Homo sapiens: one gene and its partner. The protein of the gene in region 1 purifies or fractionates together with the protein of each later gene. This does not show direct contact. Each region holds a gene or a part of one and is shown in the gene's direction. Other genes may lie near its edges.

Evidence for each region. The genes of interacting proteins can lie anywhere in the genome.
Region 2: the proteins of ELAVL4 (region 1) and DIDO1 purify together in Homo sapiens (co-immunoprecipitation; one large-scale study listed by IntAct). This does not show direct contact.

The regions. Positions count from the first base shown.
Region 1 is NC_000001.11:50,195,902-50,199,555, forward strand, and holds part of ELAVL4 (ELAV-like protein 4), read left to right. Parts: intron 1-1,527; coding exon 1,528-1,566; intron 1,567-3,654. UniProt on the Homo sapiens protein: RNA-binding protein that is involved in the post-transcriptional regulation of mRNAs. Plays a role in the regulation of mRNA stability, alternative splicing and translation.
Region 2 is NC_000020.11:62,909,506-62,913,159, reverse strand, and holds part of DIDO1 (death-inducer obliterator 1), read left to right. Parts: intron 1-1,545; 5' UTR 1,546-1,547; coding exon 1,548-2,386; intron 2,387-3,139; coding exon 3,140-3,461; intron 3,462-3,654. UniProt on the Homo sapiens protein: Putative transcription factor, weakly pro-apoptotic when overexpressed. Tumor suppressor. Required for early embryonic stem cell development.

The DNA.
Region 1 (3,654 bases):
ATCACTGTGCAAAACTCCCCCCGAGCCTCAGTTTCCATTCCTGTAAAATGAGACAGTTGGAGCAGATGCCCTTCTAAGCCCTCTTCCAATTTACTACTGTGACTGTATAAACTTTAGATTCTTTGGTAGAAACAAAATGTCTGTATTTAACCAAACATGAAGGTTCAGTTTCAACAAGAGTTAATCACAGATCAGTGACCACATTCAGCAGATTAGACTTAAGGCTGGACAGTGGCTTTTAATAAATTCAAAAAATAGACCATAAGGCAGATCCTTGCCAGAAGGAGTTGTTTTTCCTATCTTCTTTTCCCTCGGCAGGTAACTCTGTTGAGTTCAGGGGAGGGGGAAGTGCCTTTGGTGTTAACCTTATTATGTTAAGTCAGTAGATTCTGGGAAGATAGGGAGGAAGATCCTGTCCAAGCCTGATTAGTGTTTCCTTCAAGTACCCAACCCCCAGGAAGCTCCTGGGGCAGGGGGGCATTGCCCTTCTCCTGGGACTTTTCTAAAAGACAGGTTTCTCTCCATGAAGGCAGTATGACCTTGACTGGTCTCTATTATACAAGAGATAAAAATATGTTTGACTTACCCATGATAAATTCTAAACAATTACTTTATTCCACACCACAGCCCAGCTTCCCTTTGATGAAAATGTTTTTCTCTTTGAGAAACTTCACATGGGAAATAGTAGGTCCTTCTATCTAGGATAGTATGCTCCATCTGGCTACATGAGGAGAAAAATCATCCTCTTTCGTGTCCTCCTATGCCCTGTGAATTTGAAATGGTTAATGATTTCATGAAGAGTCCAAGTCATCTAATTTTTATTTTGCTTGAGAGCACATGCAGTATTTATGTAAAAAGCCTCTCCAGCAGACTTCTAATGGTGGAAACTATCGTTACTACTGCCCTATGGTGTGAATAGCTTGTCCCCAAGTAAGGTAGTGAATGTGAGGAAGATTATAGCGTAATGGCAGTTTGCTGGGAGGTGCTATCAGGCAGTAAACAGTAAGCCACTTTTTAAAAATCTTAACCTGCAAACTCCCCCTGCCTCCCAAAAATGTGTGTAGTAAGATGATTTAGTTAATGTAGCAAGGCTAACAGAAAAGATCTGTTCTGATACATATTGTGTGCCTGTGTATTGTTAATCTGGAACAGAGACCTTTATTTACAAGTTTAATTATAGTAAAAAGGTGAACAATTTAAGAAGCCCCCGCTTTGAACAATTTCACTACAATATAAAACAAAATCCACACAAATGTTCTGAGAGGTGGGGGGAATGGTATTAATTCAGACCTTGAAAGAAAGGGAGACTCATTAGACACTTGCTTTAAACTCTAGCAATGACCTGAACATGAATTACTTGCAGTTAGAGACAGAAAAGGGGGAAACTACCGGTGGATAGACTCCTAAGCAGTGGGGAAAGTTGTTGAGCTTTTCTTCTTTGAAAATGGAGCATTCTTATTAATAGTTCCATTGAGCGATCTTGCCATCTGTGAGGCATTAACCCAGAGACCCTCCTTCTCTTTGCAGGCTGGACAATTTGCTTAATATGGCCTATGGCGTAAAGAGGTAATTAAAACTCCACAGATTGCCAGATGTCCATGTTGGCACAGACTGGGGCTAGAATTTTTTTTTTTTAATTCACTAACTTTACTTTAAAAGAAAAAAATTCTTCCTTTTTCTTCCACCAGCATGTCAAATTCTTAATTTTAATTTCGGACCTCAGTTGATTTTGTTTCTTTTAGGGCACACAAAATGTATTTGTGTGTTTCACTTTTTCTTTTATTTGCAGGTGGGCTTCTCCTATGGTTCAGGTGCCACAGCTACCAAGCCCTTAATAATCTGGTCCTTTGAATGGCTCCCCTAAGGGGAAAGGCTCCGACTCTTTGCTGGCTGGTTTTGCAAACTTGCAGAGCAAACTGTTTTGCATTAGCAATGCCAAGATTCAGTTAAGAGGGCAGATTCCAGCAAATCAGAATTAGAACATTTTGCTAATTGTGGTTGACAATCTTATGATTTTTCAGTAGAAAAATTAGATTTTGGACTACCAGCTCTGGCCAAAGGATAAACAAACACGTGGATGACTTTCTAACTCCTGCCCCCACTTCAGTGTGCATTTCAGAGCACATCCTGAGAATGAAGTGTATCTGTGTGCACCTCAACCAGGGGTTTCTTTTGTTACAGGTTTTAACAGTTCTTATAAATCCTCCCTTGGTTATATGTTATGTGTGTTTTAAACTTGCTGTTCCTGTCACTGAAAGGCTTTTTGTGGGGTTGGGGGCCCAGAGTCAAGGCTTTTGGGGCTCTCTGAATGCAGATTCAAAGTTTTCCAGACCCAGTATGAAATCTGAATCTTGGAAAGTTGGGTGTGTGATGTCACTGTGTCCATGAGATTCCCATATGTGCTTCTGATAAGCTCCACTGCACTGCTAGGGACATAGTGTCTTCATCATCTTGCTCAGTAGAGCTGCACACTTTAATTCCCCTTCCTACAGTCAAGGGAAAGAGATGTAGTCTTTAATAGTCCACATCACACCCCCAGTTCTTTCACTGGCCATCCATGGTAAGTACCCTGACTCTGGGAACTGGTGCATGGTAGAGGAAGTAACCTGACTGCAGACTTCACTATCAGAGGACCGGCCTTTCAAATCTCAATCCCAGCATCAATGAGGATAACTATGAATTATCTCCACATTTCCAGCACACTGTTTGCCTGTTCCCAGGGATTTTACATCTTTCCTAGCTCTATCTCATTCCTTTGCTCCTCTCTGATGTTAGTGAGGTAGTGCTAAATGTTGTGAAAAGAGAAATGCTTATAAATAGATAAGATAGGGGAAGACACAGCTGTAGTAGGCCTGCCACCACCTCCTCCACTGCCCCACCCAGAGTAAACATCACTAGCTGATAATAGCATTCTCTTTTCCTATTGAACCCAGATTTGGATTTAGAACGCTTCCTACCAAAATGCTGCAATTAACTGTCACCAACTAGGATAGAGGCTGTACTTGCAATCTCTTTGCTGGCCCTGACCTTTGACTTATAATAAATACTTAGCTGTTTTCTACCTATAAACAGAAAGAGGTCAGTTCACCAGGGTCAACTCACTTGGTTGGAGGATAGAATATTAAAAAGACAATCTTCAGAAATGATACAAGTTACAAATAGACATGGATTTGCACGTCTAAGGATCTACACCATGATATTTTTTGGCTTTTTCTTGTTAATTGTTTTTAAACAAGAGGGAAGATTGACTTAGTGAATAATAGCAAAAATATTGTCTATTGAGTTGTTATATTTAGCATATATTCAGTAGCCATTTGATTATCCAAATTCTAGTTAGATACAGAACTATTCTTTAATAGGACTTTCAAATCTCCAAGAATATTTGCTTATTTTTAAAAACAGTTGTAGCTCACACTTTACACCATGCTCTTCCCTAGTTTTTGCTTTCTCTCCTTTTCCTATCTCCCCCAGTAAAACCCTGGCCAAATGAAAAGCAAGAAACTATTCAGTGTATAGCATCAAAAATCCGTATATAAGCTCATGCCTGTAATCCCACCATTTTGGGAGGCCAAGGTGGGTGGATCACCTGAGGTCAGAAGTTCAAGACCAGCCTGGCCAACATGGCAAAACCCCGTCTCTACTAAAAATACAAAA
Region 2 (3,654 bases), on another chromosome or scaffold:
CGGCCAGGCAGCATCTTTAGCTGGACAGGAAAATGAGAAGTGACAGCATTTAGAGGGAAGCAAAAAGAACAACACAGGTTACAGGTTGCAAGTAATTTTCCATTTTGTATTTTCGTTCTTTTTCTTTTTTTTGAGACTGAGTCTTGCTCGCCCAGGCTGGAGTGCAGTGGTGCGATCTCGGCTTACTGCAACCTCCACCTCCTGGATTCAAGCAATTCTCCTGCCTCAGCCTCCCAAGTATCTGGGATTACAGGCGCCTGCCACCATGCCCAGCTAATTTTTGTATTTTTAATAGAGATGGGGTTTCACCATGTTGGCCAGGCTGGTCTCGAACTCCTAACCTCAAGTGGTCTGCCTGCCTCGGCCTCCCGAAGTGCTGGGATTATGGGCTTGAGCCACCAGGCCCGGCCCCATTTTGTATATTTTTTAAGGCTTTCATTTTATGCCAGTCCTTCCCCCAGGATGGAACATGGCATAAAATCAGAGTCATCATTAGCATTGAAATGTAATTAAAGCTTGGACAGCTTGGAAAAGAATTCTCAAAGTATCTACTGTCTTTTTCAGATTTTTGTCATTTCAACAAGAGTAAAAGTTTCATAAATAAGATTCTTTAGTAATGTATTAGAATGAAAGTGAAAAATAATACAGAAAAAAAAATATACTGGCCTGGCACAGTGGCTAACTCCAGCCTGGGGACAGAGCAAGACTCCGTCTCAAAAAAAAAAAAAAAGAAATATACCTTAAAGTGATCGCCTTGACCATGTTTTCTAAGTGTCCCAGTTGTCTTGCTGCTAACAATATCTCCAAAGCTCAGTAGACTAAAACAAGGTTTATTTCATACCACACAATCTGTTGGGTCAGGAGTTAGGCAGTTCTCTCACATTGTGCCCGTGAGGGTCATTCACTTGGCAGCAGGGCTGGTATGGAGGGTCCCAGATAGTGATAGCATCCTTCCTGGCCCCAGCCCCTGGTTGGGGAGCTGAAAGTCGGGACTCAGCTTCTTCATATCCTCTTTTCAGCATGGTGGTGGCCAGCCCATACTTGCAAAAGTCCAGAACAGACTTGGGTCCCTTTGCAGGCCACACCCAAACTGGCACAGCGTCTTGTTCACTGTGCTTGTGGTCAGAGCAGCCCATCTGCCTGCGGAGGTGCTGGGGAGCTCGTGCCACCTCCGAGCTGCTCGCGTCCTTGCTCACGTCCTTACTCACATCCTTACCCTGCTATACTGTCCAATATTTCCTATTTGTCCCTACTGTCTGGCTTGTGAAGCCTTGTCCTGAGCAGTTAAATGATGAAATTGTACATTTGATTTGTTAGCTGTATTTTTGTCTAAACGTTAGTTGTTTAACTATATTAAAATTATCTTTACAAATCATCTTGAATCATCTCACATAGCACACATTAGGAAACACTGGTCAGAAGGACTTGCTTTATGTAGAGCTCCACTGTTTGTAGGGAGGTGGCCCCTGCTGCGCGTGTTTGGCGGCAATGTCACCTTTTGTTCTGTGGTCAGTTGGTCACTATGTGCTTACACTTTACCGCTAGGTATGGACGACAAAGGCGACCCGAGCAATGAGGAGGCACCTAAGGCCATCAAACCCACCAGCAAAGAGTTCAGGAAAACATGGGGTTTTCGAAGGACCACTATCGCCAAGCGAGAGGGCGCAGGGGACGCGGAGGCTGACCCACTGGAGCCGCCACCCCCACAGCAGCAGCTGGGCCTGTCCCTGCGGCGCAGTGGGAGGCAGCCCAAGCGCACTGAGCGCGTGGAGCAGTTCCTGACCATTGCGCGGCGCCGCGGCAGGAGGAGCATGCCTGTCTCCCTGGAGGATTCTGGTGAGCCCACGTCCTGCCCCGCCACAGACGCCGAGACAGCCTCCGAGGGCAGCGTGGAAAGCGCTTCTGAGACCAGAAGCGGCCCCCAGTCTGCTTCCACAGCTGTGAAGGAACGACCAGCCTCTTCTGAAAAGGTGAAAGGAGGGGATGACCACGATGACACCTCCGATAGTGACAGCGATGGCCTGACCTTGAAAGAGCTTCAGAATCGCCTTCGCAGGAAGCGGGAACAGGAGCCCACTGAGAGGCCCCTGAAAGGGATCCAGAGTCGCCTGCGGAAGAAGCGCCGGGAGGAGGGTCCCGCCGAGACTGTGGGCTCCGAGGCCAGTGACACTGTGGAGGGCGTCCTGCCCAGTAAGCAGGAGCCCGAGAACGATCAGGGGGTTGTGTCCCAGGCTGGGAAAGATGACAGAGAGAGTAAGTTGGAGGGAAAGGCGGCTCAGGACATCAAAGATGAGGAGCCTGGAGACTTGGGCCGACCGAAGCCTGAATGTGAGGGTTACGACCCCAACGCCCTGTATTGCATTTGCCGCCAGCCTCACAACAACAGGTGGGTCATGTGTGGGCACCCACAGAAATCCCAGGGTTGCAAACAGAATTTTCCATTTGTTTTCATTTTAAAGGGTTACAAAGCTGGGCTGGATGAGCGATTTGTTGGAAAAGATGAACAAGTTGTCAAAAAAGAAACACATAAGAGTGGCTAAGGACTTCCTAGAGCCACCTCTCCACTCTGGTAGCCACTGGCCACACATGGCTGTTTCCAGTCAAGTGAGGAGGTGAATAGCGCCCCACCCCAGTCACGTGAGCCACGTGCAGCCAGTGGCTCTGTGTAGACGGCATGGAGGAGAATGTGTCCGTCACTCCGGGGTCTGTCTGAGACTGCTCCTCTAGACTGCCCCTTGGGAGACATAGCAGAGGGGCATGTGCAGACCGCAAGTGTCCTAGTGCAAACATTGGGGCAGCTCAAAAGATCTCTGCTAGGACTGGGTGTCAGACGGTGATAGGCAGCCTGTTGGCTTGGCGCTGGGATAAAGGCATTGTCGCAGTTTTGGGGGGAGACTTGCTGAGGTATCTGTGGTGGAATGCCTTAGAGTTTGCTCCTAAAATGCGCTACTCTTAAAAAACGGTGAAGTAAATTTGGTTGAATGTTAAAATCAAAGGAAAGGCATGAGGACGTTCTTAATCTCTACTTTTCTGTATATTTGCATTTTTTCATGAAGTTAAAACCAATTGTCTTATTAATGTGTTGAAAAGTGCTTGTCACTCACGTCCCATTGCTAATACCGTTATTTTATAATTTCAGGTTTATGATTTGCTGTGACCGCTGTGAAGAATGGTTTCATGGCGATTGTGTGGGCATTTCTGAGGCTCGAGGGAGGCTTTTGGAAAGGAATGGGGAAGACTATATCTGCCCAAACTGCACCATTCTGCAAGTGCAGGATGAGACTCATTCAGAAACGGCAGATCAGCAGGAAGCTAAATGGAGACCTGGAGATGCTGATGGCACCGATTGTACAAGTATAGGAACAATAGAGCAGAAGTCTAGCGAAGACCAAGGGATAAAGGGTAGAATTGAGAAAGCTGCAAATCCAAGTGGCAAGAAGAAACTCAAGATCTTCCAGCCTGTAAGTGTTTGTCCGCTGAGACGAGCATTCAGCAGTCGGCCTCACTGGTTTCAGTCTCGCTCTAGATAGAAATTCCTCCCAGGACGGGTGCTGCACCCATGTGGGGCGGTGCCTCTCCCGGGTTCCTGCCTCACTCCACCTGGGTGAGGCCTTTCTATTTTTATTCTTACCCTGTCTACCTCCTCTACTATTA